Linked DNA regions of Homo sapiens. The protein of the gene in region 1 purifies or fractionates together with the protein of each later gene. This does not show direct contact. Each region holds a gene or a part of one and is shown on either strand. Other genes may lie near its edges.

What was found.
Region 2: the proteins of ZNF597 (region 1) and NSMCE2 purify together in Homo sapiens (affinity purification with mass spectrometry; 4 studies listed by BioGRID and IntAct, with this or other methods). This does not show direct contact.

What each region holds. Positions count from the first base shown.
Region 1 is NC_000016.10:3,433,151-3,440,787, forward strand, and holds part of ZNF597 (zinc finger protein 597), read right to left. Parts: intron 4,389-7,637; coding exon 3,274-4,388; 3' UTR 1-3,273. UniProt on the Homo sapiens protein: May be involved in transcriptional regulation.
Region 2 is NC_000008.11:125,094,860-125,101,859, reverse strand, and holds part of NSMCE2 (E3 SUMO-protein ligase NSE2), read right to left. Parts: intron 2,407-7,000; exon of another isoform or gene 2,303-2,406; intron 1-2,302. UniProt on the Homo sapiens protein: E3 SUMO-protein ligase component of the SMC5-SMC6 complex, a complex involved in DNA double-strand break repair by homologous recombination. Is not be required for the stability of the complex.

The DNA of each region.
Region 1 (7,637 bases):
TAAATGAGGAGGTGTCAATAGACTACCACCTGTAGCAACAAAGCTCTAAATAAAACTATTCTGAGTCGACCTCATTCAAAACAACTACATTCCACAATTTCTTAAATTATAAAATGTAAACTGCTGACATCTGAATTCCATTGGAAAAATGCTGTTTTCATCAATGACGACTGTTTAAAAGACTGTTTAACTATTCCAGCAATCATGTTAAGGAACTGTTGGATATACATTTTCATCACTGCATCAACGACAAAAACGGAGAAATTTGTCTGAGTCAATTTATTCAGCACAAAGTTTTCACTCTCATAGTGTGTTGATTTCCATGCTGCAAAATGCAGTTAACCAATCATTCATAGCAATAAACTCTTGCATTTAGTTTTTCATTCCCATATTAACTTTTATCCAGTATTTGTGAATAGCACCTAACATGGAAGGCTAGTATCTGAGTTAATGACAATTTTATGGAATTTATCTCCATCAGTTGACACTGTAAACAGAAGGGTGAAATGCCATCATCATAAAAAGCCTGAAGCTCACCAGCAGATATATCTTTTCCTTCAATTCCCTGGGGGTAAAGCAGCTTGAATTACATCTAGCAAATGTATTTAAGTACAACTGCACAATAAGCACAACTGAAAATATGCCTCTTTCACAGTAACTGACACTTCCGGGGTTTTCATTTTTTTCTGCATACTAATCATTAACAGTATTATACCAAAAAGCCATTTTAGTTCTACCCACACGTATGTTAATGTTTCTGAAAAGGGCTATTTTTTCTAATCTTTTAGGAAGTTTGTCGTAATCTTCCAAAATCTGGAGAAAACTGCAAAAAAAAAAATTAGAGGTTAATTGTGAAGGAAGACTCGTGTGGAAAGGCAAACTTCCATATTAAGGTGCAGAACAGGATGTATGGCACAAATTCTCACTTTCTGCTATATTTTCTAGGAGCCAAAACAAAAATGACAGCATACATCTTTTATATCACCCCCATTCTGTCCAAGTGCCTTCTAAGATATTCCCCTCTACTTCTTTCTGCAGCAACTCTGCTAATCCAGACCTTTCCCAATTTCATCCCCCATCCTGTGACTCATTAGATCTTTGACTGAACTCTTAGGGCCCCTGATATGTGCTGATGAGGCTCCTGCCAGTTTCTCCCACTGAGGGCAGAAGCAGGAGAGCAAGGAGGTGGTGTTCTTGTTATTTAACAAAGGTCATGGTATCTCAGAGTTGCCTAATAAGTAATCTAACTGGAGACTATCTTTCTACACATTTCAAAGCACCTCAGAGAAACCTGGAAGCTGGTGTCCTGTCTCCTAAGAGTGGAGACATCAGAAACAAACAGCCAAAGTCTGACCTTGACATACAGAGCAGCACATTGTCTCAACTGTGGATCTGCAAACAAGAAACAAGACAAGAATGACAAAGAGAGAGAAACTCTCTCTGGGTTAGGGATGTTTTTGTTAGTTTCAGTTTTTCTCTCACCTGAACAGTATCTTCCTGCCTCTACTCAGTAATAAGAGCTTAGCTGAGTAGCCAGCATTTTTTGTATATTTAGTCCTCAATCTGCTGTTCTGTAGGACCACCTTCTGCTACCTTCCATATAATTAGTCCTCAAGAGTCCTTTATCTTTTCTCCCAGCAAAAATTCCCAGCAACAATTCAATTTTAGCAAATATTGTACTTTTATACTGTCTATTTAAATAGAATGAGAGCATTCTTCCATCCTAATCAAAACCCATGTAAATATTGTTTTGCTGATAGGCATACAATCGACTTTAATGAGAAATTGTATATGAATCTATATTTACAACATTCTGTGGTTCTTTAACATTAATAACCATACCATTTAATAATATTTTGCTCCAGTATTTATCTATAATAGCAATATCTAAAGATCTATATATTATCAAGTATTTTGGTTAAAATCTAACAATTTTCTATATGCATTTTCTTTGGAGATGGAGAGGAAATGTTATGGGTGTTTTTTAAAAAACCAAAACCCAGTTAAGACCTTCAGTATTGTACTCTGCCAAGTGTGAAATCTCTCATCTGATTAGAGGGACAAGAATTCAAACCTGAAGTCCTGGAGAGTCTTCTGCTGCTTTGTAACTGTATATGTTAGTCAGGCTTTGGGTACAGCACAAAGGGAATGAAGGGGTTCCAGGATGCAAGCACACAGAATCGCCTCCATGAGGACCACCCTCACCTATCTCAGCTCCCCTTTCCCTGGCTGCCTGCAGTGCTACTACGTGGTGCAAATGCCAACAAATGCCGCAGTCTTGCAGACTGCATGGCCTTTGGAGTCAGAGAAACCCAAGCTTAATGTCAGTTTCACCACAATGTGATTTGTGTGCTGGGCAAAGAACTGACTTTACCCTCTGAGGACTTCAGTTTCCTCGTTTATGAAACAAAGATTTTTTTTCTCTGTCACAGATTCTGAAGATTAAATTACATAATATATCTAAAGTAGCTAGCATGCTCACTGAGAAACAATTACAATTATTCATAGTAAGACAGGTAATGTGCTTCAGTAGCAATTTGGAGGCAAATCTTAGAAAAGAGCAAGTACTTCTCCCCCTCCCCAAGTCAAGTCCAGCCTCCAGAAAAGGGCTGCAGTTAGACTTCCAAAACTCCTTGCAAACAATTGGGTCCTAAATGCCAGTATGTGCCCCTGGCATCAGAACCATGACAGAGAACTCCGGATACTAATGGCCATCAAAATATAAACTAGTCTACCCATTTGGGAACTTTTACAGGGCAGAAAAAAACTTCTGAACGCCTGTGGGAATTCACATGTAGAACAGCAATCTTATACAAGTATTACATTCAAATAGTTATAGCAAAAAAAAGTATAAAACATATAAAAGCATTTACTTTCCTAGATATGTCTGCAGAACTGGCAAAATATAAATAAATTCTCCTCCTTCTAAAAGTCAGAAACTACGTAAACAAAATTAAAATAACTTTAGCAAGAGCCTTCATTTTAATGAAAATTGAATTTAAACAAAAGTTGTGTATCTTCTTCTGGCTCACAGTTGTACAGTAACTGAGTTCAAATCCTGGGTTCATTCACTAGTTTAGTGACACGGATTTTGCATCCCTACTTATAAAATGGAAATGATACTGCCTAAATCACGGTTGTGCTGAGAATTAAGTATTACATGGGAATGTGTGTAAAGTGCTTAGCACATTGCCTGGGACATATACAGTAACTGCTTCCCACCATACAGATACTGAAAAGCCCAATCACTAATAACAATTTGTTATATTTACTTTACGTGGTGTTTTTTATGTGAGTTCGCTTATGAGTAATGAGATGCAAATTCGACTTGAAAGTTTTCCCACACACGGTACATTTAAAAGGTTCCGCTAGCATGTGGCTCTTCTGGTGGCATGCAAGTTCTGAGTCCAAAGCAAAACTTTCCTCGCATGTTTTGCACTTATGGGGCCTTTCCTCTGTATGAATGTTCTGATGGGAAATAAGCTCAGAGAAACAAGGAAAGGTCATGTCACAGTCAGGACACTGTAAGGGCTTGAATTTTGAGAATGAGAAGAAATTGTCCCCATCATCGCTGCAGCGTTCAGAGTCCTCGTCGTGGCTCTTCTCGGAAAGGGCAGGATATAAGGACTGCCTGAAGCTCTTCATGCACTTAGTGTGCTGGTACTGGGGGCCTGATACGAATGTTTCCTCAGGCAAAGCAAGATTTGGTTTCTCATTAAAATGTTTATCACAGTTAGTAGATTCGTAGGTGTTTTCAGCACTGTGGCTTTTCTGATGCTGTGCCAATCCTGGGAGCCACATAAAACCTCTACCACATATGCTACATGTATAGGGCTTCTCCTTTACGTGGCTATTCATGTGTCGGGATAGATGAGAGTGCTGGCGAAAGCTGGCACTGCACTTGGCACACTTATAAGGTTTCTCACCAGTATGGATTCTCCTGTGTGTCCTCAGGTTGGCTCTATGATTGAAGATCTTTCCACAGTCACCACATTTATGTTTTTTCTCTCCTGAATGAATTTTCTGATGCAAAACTAGGTATGAATGATCGCTGAAGTTTTGGTCACACTCAGGACATTTGTACACATTTTTGGCTCCTTCCCAGGGAGAATCAAGAATTTCAGAAAGTGTGTTGGTTCCTAAATATTCAGAGAGTTCTACTAATGGGGTGTGGTTTTCAATGGTAACTAAAAGGCTGATGACCCTTCTCTTGTAAGTGGGAGTTCCACTTAATATTTTCGCTTCAGGGTTTCCAACTCCATCCTCAGAGGATTTTTCTGGGTAAGGGACAAGGGGTGCAGCAATGGGGTACTTTTCTAAGGCAAGCTCGTCAAGTTCCATAGACTCTAGGCTTAACTGCTGATTAATCTCAGGCTTGCCTTCCTCTCCTGTTGATAAAAACAAAAGAAAGCAAAACATAGACAATATCTTCAAGGGATACTGGGGAAAAAGTAAGCTAAGGTAGTTACAAACAGGACCAGGAAACCTTAGAAGGGTTATTCTATAACCCAGACACTAACCACACAAAATCAGGACCAAGCAGACTCTCCTGGCCTCCCAGAAGATCCAGTTTTGGGTGAATATCCAAAGGTAAGGAGAGAATAGCTATAACTAAGTCAGAGTCCAGTGGGATAGGTACTAAGGACAATCTCAGTAGCAGCTATCTAGAGGTGAACTTTTCCATCTAATCTATTTAGGCCTCAAGAGCCTTTCATTTTTGAAGCTATCTCAAGTGACAGCAGAACAATTAACAATTGGAAAAAAGATTAGGATTCATATTTATCAACAAAGAGAGGGGTTGGGCAGTGTCTCACGTCTGTAATCTCAGCACTTTGGGAAGCTGAGGTGGGAGCATCACTTGAGGCTAGGAGTTTGAGACCAGTCTGGGCAACACAGTGAGACCCCATCTGTACAAAAAATAATTTTTAAAAATTAGCCAGGCATGGTGGCACATGCCTATAGTCCTAGATACTCAGGAGGCTGAGACAGGAGGATCACTTGAGCTCAGGAGTTTGAGATGTGCCATTGCACTCCAGCCTAGGTGACAGAGCCAGAACTTGTTTCTTAAAAAAAAAAAAAAAAGATGACAGCAAGAATGAGTGGGAAAGAAAATAATTTTTAAAAAGAGGCTGGGCACGGTGGCTCACACCTGTGATCCCAGCACTTTGGGAGGCCGAGGCGGGTGGATCACGAGATCAGGAGATCAAGACCATCCTGGCTAACACGGTGAAACCCCATCTCTACTAAAAAAAAATACAGAAAATTAGCTGGGCGTGGTGGCCTGCGCCTGTCGTCCCAGCTACTCGGGAGGCTGAGGCAGGAGAATGGCGTGAACCCAGGAGGCGGAGCTTGCAGTGAGCCGAGATCGCGCCACTGCACTCCAGCCTGGGCGACAGAGCAAGACTCTGTCTCAAAAAAAAATAATAATAATAATTAAAAAAGAAAAAAGAAAAAAAAGCAATCAAGTGAGCATTTTTCTTCCATAACAAAGAAACACACGGGTTATCAGAAATAGTTTTATTATCACCAGGAGAACTCTCCAAAATCTCTTTACTCCTCACTGAGGAAAGATCAAGGTAGAAGGCTGTGTGTACTGCATGAAAATAACAGCCAATCTACTTACAAGAATGGCTGACAAAACTAACATTCCTGTGTAATATTTTCCAAGTATTCTTCAGTTATAAAGCAAATATATCAATACAAAAGGAACTTTTCTTTCCAGAGAAACAAAGTTCTACAGTTTTCCCAACTCACTGACTAGAAAGGGCTGCAGTATAGTTCATGGGAATCCAAACAGTACCAAGTGGTTTTGCTGATTTGAGGGGACTGAGTTCAGAGATCAGGGATGCCAAGGCAGCTAGAATTTGAAAGCAAAACAGCAAAGAGGCAGCTGTTCAGAAAGAGAGCTCAGGTCATCTACATGGGGTCCCCTTAAGACTTTCCTGAGGCTAGGTACAGTGGCTCAAACCTGTAATCCCAGCACATTGGGAGGCTGAGGTGGGAGAATTGCTTGAGCCACGGAGCTCGAGACCAGCCTGGGCAACATGGCAAAGCCCCATCCCTACAAAAAAAAAACAACAAAAAAAGACAAGCATGGTAGTGCATGCCTGTAGTCCCAGCTACTTGGGAGGCTGAGGTGGGAGGACTGCTTGAGCCTGGGAGGTCAGGGCTGCAGTGAGCCGTGATTGTGCCACTGCACTCCAGCCTGGGTGACAGATCAAGATACTGTATCAAAAAAAAAATAACCCCACAACTTTGGCTGAGTAGTAATCTACAAGTGCATGAAGAAACTACCCAATGCCGTGGAAAGAACCACCTAAAAGGAATAACAGAGCAATAACCAGTTCATGTTGCCTCCAGCCAAAGTGGAAAGACATAAGACATTGAGCAGCAACGTCCACAGAAAAAAACTGCCTTAGCAGTAACTCAAATAAGTCCTAGCAGAAAGGTTGATCTGAACCTATCCTAACAAAGCAAAAAAAAAAAGCACACCTTGAAACAGTCAAACTGACTCCAAGTAACTTAACTGCCTCCCACAACAAAGTCCAAAATATTTTTAAAAATACAACGAAATCCCGGGTCCAACAACATAAAATTCTTAATCTAACATCCGACCAAAATTTACCCAGGAAGTAAAGAAAATATAGAAAATATAACCCATAACTAGAAGACAAATCAATCAATAGAAACAGACCCAGAAATGACATCAATGTTAAAACTAGCAAGAAAAAAAAGTTTAAATAACCATTATAAATATACTCCATACATTTACGCAGACAGAAGACAACATGAACATGATGAAGAGAGAAGTGGAAGAAACAAAATATGAGTTATTCAGAATAACTAGTTACTCTAGTTATTTTTTTCTGACTAGGATTGAGTATCTCAACTATTCCAAACTATTTAGAATAACTACTTAGAATAGATAGTTTAGATACTCAATCCTAGTCAGAAATAAAATCTAGTCAGGCACAGGAGTCCATCTGTGTATGGTTCCCCTTAGGTGAGTAAGGCATAGCACCCCTTAAGAGTAAATCAATCTCCAGTCTTTAGCAAATGATAGTGATCGATACTAATGGGATTTCCCAAGTAAAATTGTAAACTGCAACAAATGTTTGTGAAAGATTACCAAATACTGCCATCTCTTGTACTAAACCACAGGCACTGTACTAGACTGAATTTTTGTCTTTAAGAGATCATCTCGGCCGGGCTCAGTGGCTCATGCCTGTAATCCCAGCACTTTGGGAGGCCGAGGCGGGTGATCACAAGGTCAGGAGATTGAGACCATCCTGGCTAACACGGTGAAACCCTGTCTCTACTAAAAATACAAAAAATTAGCTGGGCATGGTGGCAGGCGGCTGTAGTCCCAGCTACTCGGGAGGCTGAGGCAGGAGAATGGCGTGAACCTGGGAGGCGCGGTTTGCAGTGAGCAGAGATCGTGCCACTGCACTCCAGCCTGGGCAACAGAGCGAGAGTCTGTCTCAAAAAAAAAAAATCATCTCATATTTTAAAACTTTTTCTCTCACACAATTATCACCTCCACATAAATTACTGAGGGACAGGTCCCACTCCACCATACCAACATCTGGATAAAGCATGAAGTTCTCCTCCTAGAATTGACAAAAGTTCCAGATGCA
Region 2 (7,000 bases), on another chromosome or scaffold:
TGTAAAAAAAAGAGAAAATCTATATTCCTGCCAGTTCCTCTGGCTTCTAACAGATTAATAGACTTGGTGAGATCCCAGAGTCAGTGAAAGCAGAATTTCTGTATAAACTTGTCTTCTGGCAGCACATCCACTATAACAGTTTCAGTTATTACCTTCATATTTAACACTTCCTAATCTATATCTTCAACCACAATTTGTTTCAGCTTAGTAAAGCAATGTAAAGCTGCCTACAAAAGGACATCTCTGCTTAATTCAGAAGCCATTTGAAACTCAATCCACTGAAACCAACTAGAAAAGTGGGGAGAATTCACAGTTTTAAAGGGATGGGAGGGCTATTAACAAGGCTCTATGGCAGCAGAAAAAGGGGTATTTTCATGGAATCAGATAGACATAACATGAAGACTGCTAAACATCTCTGAATCTCAGCTTTACCATCTTTAAAATGGAAAGGAATAACCATGGTATGGTATAGCATACAGTACACAATTAATTAGCATTAGAGCCTTCCCTTCTGCCCTTCCTAAGTGGGGAACTGTGTAGTATCTCTGGCATTTCCATCCTCATCATTGCTACCACCTTCATCTCACAGCTGAACTACTATTGTAGTTTCTCCATTATTAGTCCTTTTTAATTAGGTTCATTCATTCATTTCACTCATAAGTATTGAGTACCTACCATGTCAATCATGAGACCCATTCAAAAATCCACAGGATATAAAAAGAGAAGGGCATAGAGACATGCAAGATGCACAGAGATGCATAAGATTTCTAATTTGAAGTGTTTGTTTACCTCAAACATCCACAGTACAACTCATTGTCAGTTCAAATATTTAGTATCTCTTTAAGTGCCAGGCACTTCCTTTAGCATGAGAATACCACAGTTTTCAAGATGAGCACTCTTAAGACACTCTCCTTTTAAAGAATTATTTTGTTATTCTAATTTGATGAAAACCTATCATGAGCCAGGCACTATCCCAGGCACTAGAAATATTCAGCCTTTGGCCAGGCGCAATGGCTCACACCTGTAATCCCAGCACTTTGGGAGGCTGAAGCAGGAGGGTCACCTGAGGTCAGGAGTTCAAGACCAGCATGGCCAACATGGCAAAACCCTGTCTCTACTAAAAATACAAAAATCAGCAGGGCATGGTAGTGGGCACCTGTAATCCCAGCTACTCGGGAAGCTGGGCAGGAGAATTGTTTGAACCTGGGAGGCGGAGGTTGCAGTGAGCCAAGATCATGCCACTGCACTCCAGCCTGGGCAACAGAGCAAGACGCGGTCTCAAAAAAATAAAAATAAAAAAAATTCAGCCTCTACTCCCAGGGGCTCACCACTGAGTAGGAGAGACAGAGATAAAACATAAACCTGATAATTAAAGCAACATGGGAGTTACTGCAAAGCTGAGGCACAGATAAGAAAATGCTCAACTTTGCCTGACTGGATCAAAGAAGGGAACATAGAACTGAGTTTAAAGGATAAAAGACGAAGTTTAACAGATGGAAGGGTAATGGAGAAGGGCATTCAGGCAAAGGAAAAGGCAGGTAGGAATGAAGTGCACAAATCATTGCAGAGTACATAAGACAATACTTGACTTTTCCTGATTCTATTATGCTCTTTTACGACTCCTCTCACTAGAAACTTCCAACACTTCCTCCTCTATCCTCACTCTCACTGAAAGATCTAGTTTCCTAATTTCCTGAGGAAACAGAAGCAGTCAGAATAGAAATTTTGCAAGCTCCCACCGCTTACCTCTCCACCTATCAGCATCAGTTCTCATACACTCTGCTTTCCCTCCTGTTAAAATGAATAAACTGTTGCTCCTAGATAAGGCCACCTCCACTCCAATTATCCACTAGATCCTATCCCTCCCTCCCTACTCTAAGACATTCTCCCAGCAATTCTCCCTGCTTTCCTGCATCATTAAATTTTCCCTCTCTACTGAATCATTCCCTTCAGCAAACAAATACACCATTACTTCTCCCATCTCAAAAACATCCTCCGACTTTCCTCCCACTTACCCCTCTGGTTACCAGCCCCATTTCTCTACTCAGCCTTAGAGCAAAACTCGTCTGTAGATTTGTATACATTTGTCTCCAAATCCTCTCCTTCCATTCCCTTTGGAACCCACCCCCACTAGGGTTCCATCTCTATCACTCCACTGCAACTGCTCTTGTCAAGGTCACCTGAAAAGACTTAATGTTAAATTTGTTATCAATGCTCAGCCCTATCTCCTTTGACCTATCAGCCAGCAGTATGCAACACAGTTAATCACTCCCTTCCTGATGCACTTTCTGCACCTGCCTACCTTGTTCTTGTTCTCATTCTCCTTTCTGTTTCCTCTCCATCTCCTTGAGCTCCATATGTTGTAGGGTCCCAGGTTCAGAATCCAAGCTTCTTTTTCTTCTCCTTCTATACCCAAATCAAATACAGCCCTGCCTCAGGGCTATGCCTTCTTGGTTCCCTCTGCCATGATACTGGTCCCCTAGATATCTACTAGGTCAATTCCCTTACTTCTCTAAGGTCTCCCTTTGAGTATCACCTCATCAGTAAGGCCTTCCCTGGCCATCTGATATACAACGGCAAGCCCTCCCAATCTCCACCCCCAGGCATTCCCACCCTTCTGCTTCTGCTTTATCTTTCCTCAAGGCAGGTATTGCCAAACGACATTCTTGTATTTATTAGGTTTATAGTGTCTAGTCCCCAATTACACTGTAAGTTCCTTAAACTTACAGACTTTTTGACTTTTTCTGTTTTGTTCACTGCTGTATTCCAAGCACCTAAAACAACGCATGGCACATTAGTGGCCATTCAACAAAGGCTTGCTGAAAGAAGGAATGAATGTAATACTATGTATCTCCAGCACCTAAAACAGCACATGTCTCCAAAACTGTAGTATAGGTGGTATGCCCAGGGCTCAGTGCTCTGATCTCTCTTTTCCATCCTCTCCCATCCACCTAGTGTTCCCAACTAGACCCATTCCATCTAAATACCATTGGCAAGATCACTCCAGAACTTAAAACGTCCAACATGGAAGGCCCACATTCCTTCTCTCCCACCCTACCCCTCCCCCAAACCTACTCCTTTTACAACCTGCCCCATCTTACTAAATAGCAACTCCATCCTTCCATTTGTTGAACCAAAACTCTTGGTTCATACTTGATCCTTCTCCTCCTCCCCTCATATCCTATACCAAACTCAACATCAATTTTGCCAGCTCTGTAGTCAAACTATCTCCAGAATCCAACCACTCTCACCAATTCTGCTGATAACACCGTGATTCAAACCATCATCTCTTGCCTGAATTACTCCAACAGTCTCCTACCTGGTCTCCCTGCTCTCAGTCTTGCCTCTTCCACCCTATTCTCAACACAGCAGCCAGAGTAAACCTTTGAAAATGTACGTAAGATCATGTGACTCCTCTGCTCAAAAACTCCTAAGGACTTCCTGACTCACCGGGAGTAATGGCCAAAGAGCTTCGTAATAACTGACAATAGTGGTTCTCCAAATGGTTCCTGACCAAGTGTCACCAGCATCACCTATGAACTTGTTAGAAATGCAAATTCTCAGGCCCCAACAATCTACGTTTTAACAAGTCCTCTATGTAATTCTAACTCTGATATATCTAGGAGACATGTAGTGTCAGTGTATTGAATCATCTGATGGGCCCATTAAAACACTGATTGCTGGACCTCACCCTCAGAATTTCTAATTCAGTATGTCTGGGAAGGGACCTAAGAATCTGCATTTCTAACAAATTTCCAGGTAATGTAGATTTTGCTGATCCAAGAATTACACTTTGAAGACCACTGTTCTACATTATCTGGCCATTGCTAGTCCTTTAATAACCCAGGCATGCTTCACCTTAAGGTCTTTGAGCTTGCTAATAAGACAGAGATGCCAGTAATAAAGACAGAAAAAAGCAGGAAGGGTTGGTCCTAACTCCCTCCTGCCTATATAATAAAATTCAACATAATTAGCACAGTATCCAAAGCTTTCTACAATATAATGCAAACACGCTTTTCAAATCAGAGATTCTACTTTTCACCAAGACTTAAATCATACATTTCATATAACCTTAACTATTTGATATTCCAGAATAAACATAACTCCTTTCTGCCACAACCCCTCAAAACAGGCTTGGCAGAGAACAAGTTCCATATTAAAAGAATGAACCAAGTACTATGAAGTTGAAAAAAGAAACCGATTACACAAACCCACTATGCTACAATGTTCAAGAAAGGAAAGGATTATAGGCACAACAGGGGAGACATAGGCTTCACGGAAATGAAGGCACTTAAGCTGGACCATAAAAGGTACTCAGGATTTGGAAAGGTCTAAATTATCAGGGAGAGCTGTTCAGATGAAGGAAGCAGTGAGATGAAAAAAGATCATAAGGTAGTAAACGATGAGATGAGTTCCCTTTGCCTGGCATACAGGTACAAAGGAATGGGAAGATAACTGGATTTCATTCTTTGGGAATATAGTGTAGACAGCCTTAAGTACAGGATAAAGATTCACTCCAGTTGGGTCTAGTGGTCATCATGGAAATTTGAGCTCTATGTATTTTCAAAACTTTACCTTAAAAATCAAGACCTGAAACAAATATGGCAAAATGTTAAAGATGTTAAAATCTGGGTGATGAAACAAGGGTTCTTGTTGTGTTCTTTTCTGGGACTTTACAGTTCCACATCAAAAAAGAAAAAATACAAACAGGAATAAAAGCCAATGATGATCTTCAAACATTTGCATTGAAAGAGACTGCTTGTTTACAATCTCACTGTATTATACCAAACAAGTTGAGACATTTTACACAATATAAATACAAACATACACAAAAAGATGGAAAAACATAAATTCAGAAAAACCAGGATCAAAAAACAGAAATTTACGGGCAAACCAAGCATATGAGAAAGTTATAATGGAGTCACGCACACTTTAGGATTCTACACAGAGGGCCAGGTGTGGTGGCTCCCGCCTGTAATCCCAGCACTTTGGGAGGCCGAGGCAGTTGATCACTCGAGGTCAGGAGTTCAAGACCAGCCCAGCCAACATGGTGAAGCCCCATCCCTACTGAAAATACAAAAATTAGCTGGGCATGGTGGTACACACCTGCAGTCCCAGCTACTCGGGAGGCTGAGGCAGAAGAATCGCTTGAATCCTGGAGGCAGCAGTTGCAGTGAGCTGAGATCACAAAAAGACTCCGTATGAAAAAAAAAAAAAAAAAAAAAGGATTCCACACAGTACTAGTAATACACATTTGGTAGTGAGCTTCCTCACAATCAAAACAAAAAGTGACAGTTATTTTCTCCAAAAAAAAAAAACAAATAACACTAGAAACTCAAGAAAAAAATAAAGCTTTCCATGGCAATCAAGGCAAGTATGGATCATCATATATGAGATAATGGGTTACACTGAAAAAAATAATCCTCAAAAATATCCTTATAGTAAATGCAATAGCAAACTTCTAGGACTGTTTCTTGAGACTATTTCTCAGGGCAGGTAAGGACAAAACACTTGTGACAGATACTGGACAGGTGCCCACCAAAACCATTTCCTCTTCAACCCGGTTACATGCCTATATATGCTCCACATTTTCCAGCCTTCCTTGAAGTTAGCTGTGGCCTATGACTGTACCCAAGGCAATGAAATGTGAGCCATTTCCAGGCCTAATCTGCAAAAAGCCACATTTTCCCATTTGATAGCTTGATGCAGGCAAGCATAGGGACCTTAGTAAAGCTATATGCTGATGATAGAGAATTACTGCATGGAAGGAGCTCAAGGCCCTACATCACTGCTTGGAGGAAAACTACTCACCTATCAGGCTCCATGCATGAAAGAAACTTCAACTGGGCAAAGCCATTTAGACTTGTGGGGTTTACCTGTTACAGTACTAAGTATTAATCAAAAAACACAAACCTGCAAGGACCAAATGATATAATTCCAGTATTCAATTTTCTTTTCTTTTTTTTTTTTTTTTTTTGAGATGGAGTTTTGCTCTTGTCCCTCAGGCTGGAGTGCAGTGGCACTACCTTGGCTCACTGCAACCTACGCCTCCCAGGTTCATGCAATTCTCTTGCCTCAGCCTCCCCAGTAGCTGGGAGCTACATGCCAGGCTAATTTTTGTATTTTTAGTAGAGACGGGGTTTCACTATGTTTGCCAGGCTGGTCTCAAACTCCTGACCTCAAGTGATCCACCGGCCTCGGCCTCCCAAAGTGCTAGGATTACAGGCGTGAGCCACTGCCCCTGGCCTCGGTTTTCTTTTTGTTTTTGAGACAGGGTCTTGTTCTGTCACCCAGGCTGGAGTGCAGTGACATGATCATGCTCGCTACAGCCTCAACCTCCCAGGCTCATGTGATTCTCCCACATTAGCCTCTCAAGTAGCTGGGACCACAGGCGCGCGCCACCACTTGGCCAATTTTTCTTTTTTAATTTTTAGTAGAGACGACCATCTCCCTGTGTTGCCCAAGCTGGTCTCAAACTCCTGAGCTCAAGTGATCCTCCCAACTCGGCCTCTCAAGTGCTGGGATTATAGGCATGAGACACCATGATCAGCAGAAGTATTCTGTTTTCTACTCAGTCTTGATTCTAGTGTAAGTCTAAATTGTCCAGAGCAGCATTGTCCAATAGAACTTTCTGTGATGAAAACGTTCTATAATCTGCACTGTCCAATATGATAGGCACTAGGCACATGTGTACTGATTATCTAAAACCTGGCTGGAAAGGTGGCTCATGCCTATAATCCCAGCACTTTGGGAGGCCAATGTGGGAGGTTGGCTTGAGCCCAGGAGTTCGAGACCAGCCCAGGCAATAAAGTGAGACTCTGTCTTTACAGAAAATAAAAAATTAGCTGGATGTGGTGGTGCGGGCCTGCAGCCCCAGCTCCTCAGGAGGAGATGTGGTAGGATCGCTTGAGCCGGGAGGTTGAGGTTGCAGTAAGCCATGATCACGCCACTGCACTCCAGCCTGGGCAACAGAGCGAGACCCTCTTTTCTCAAAAAAAAG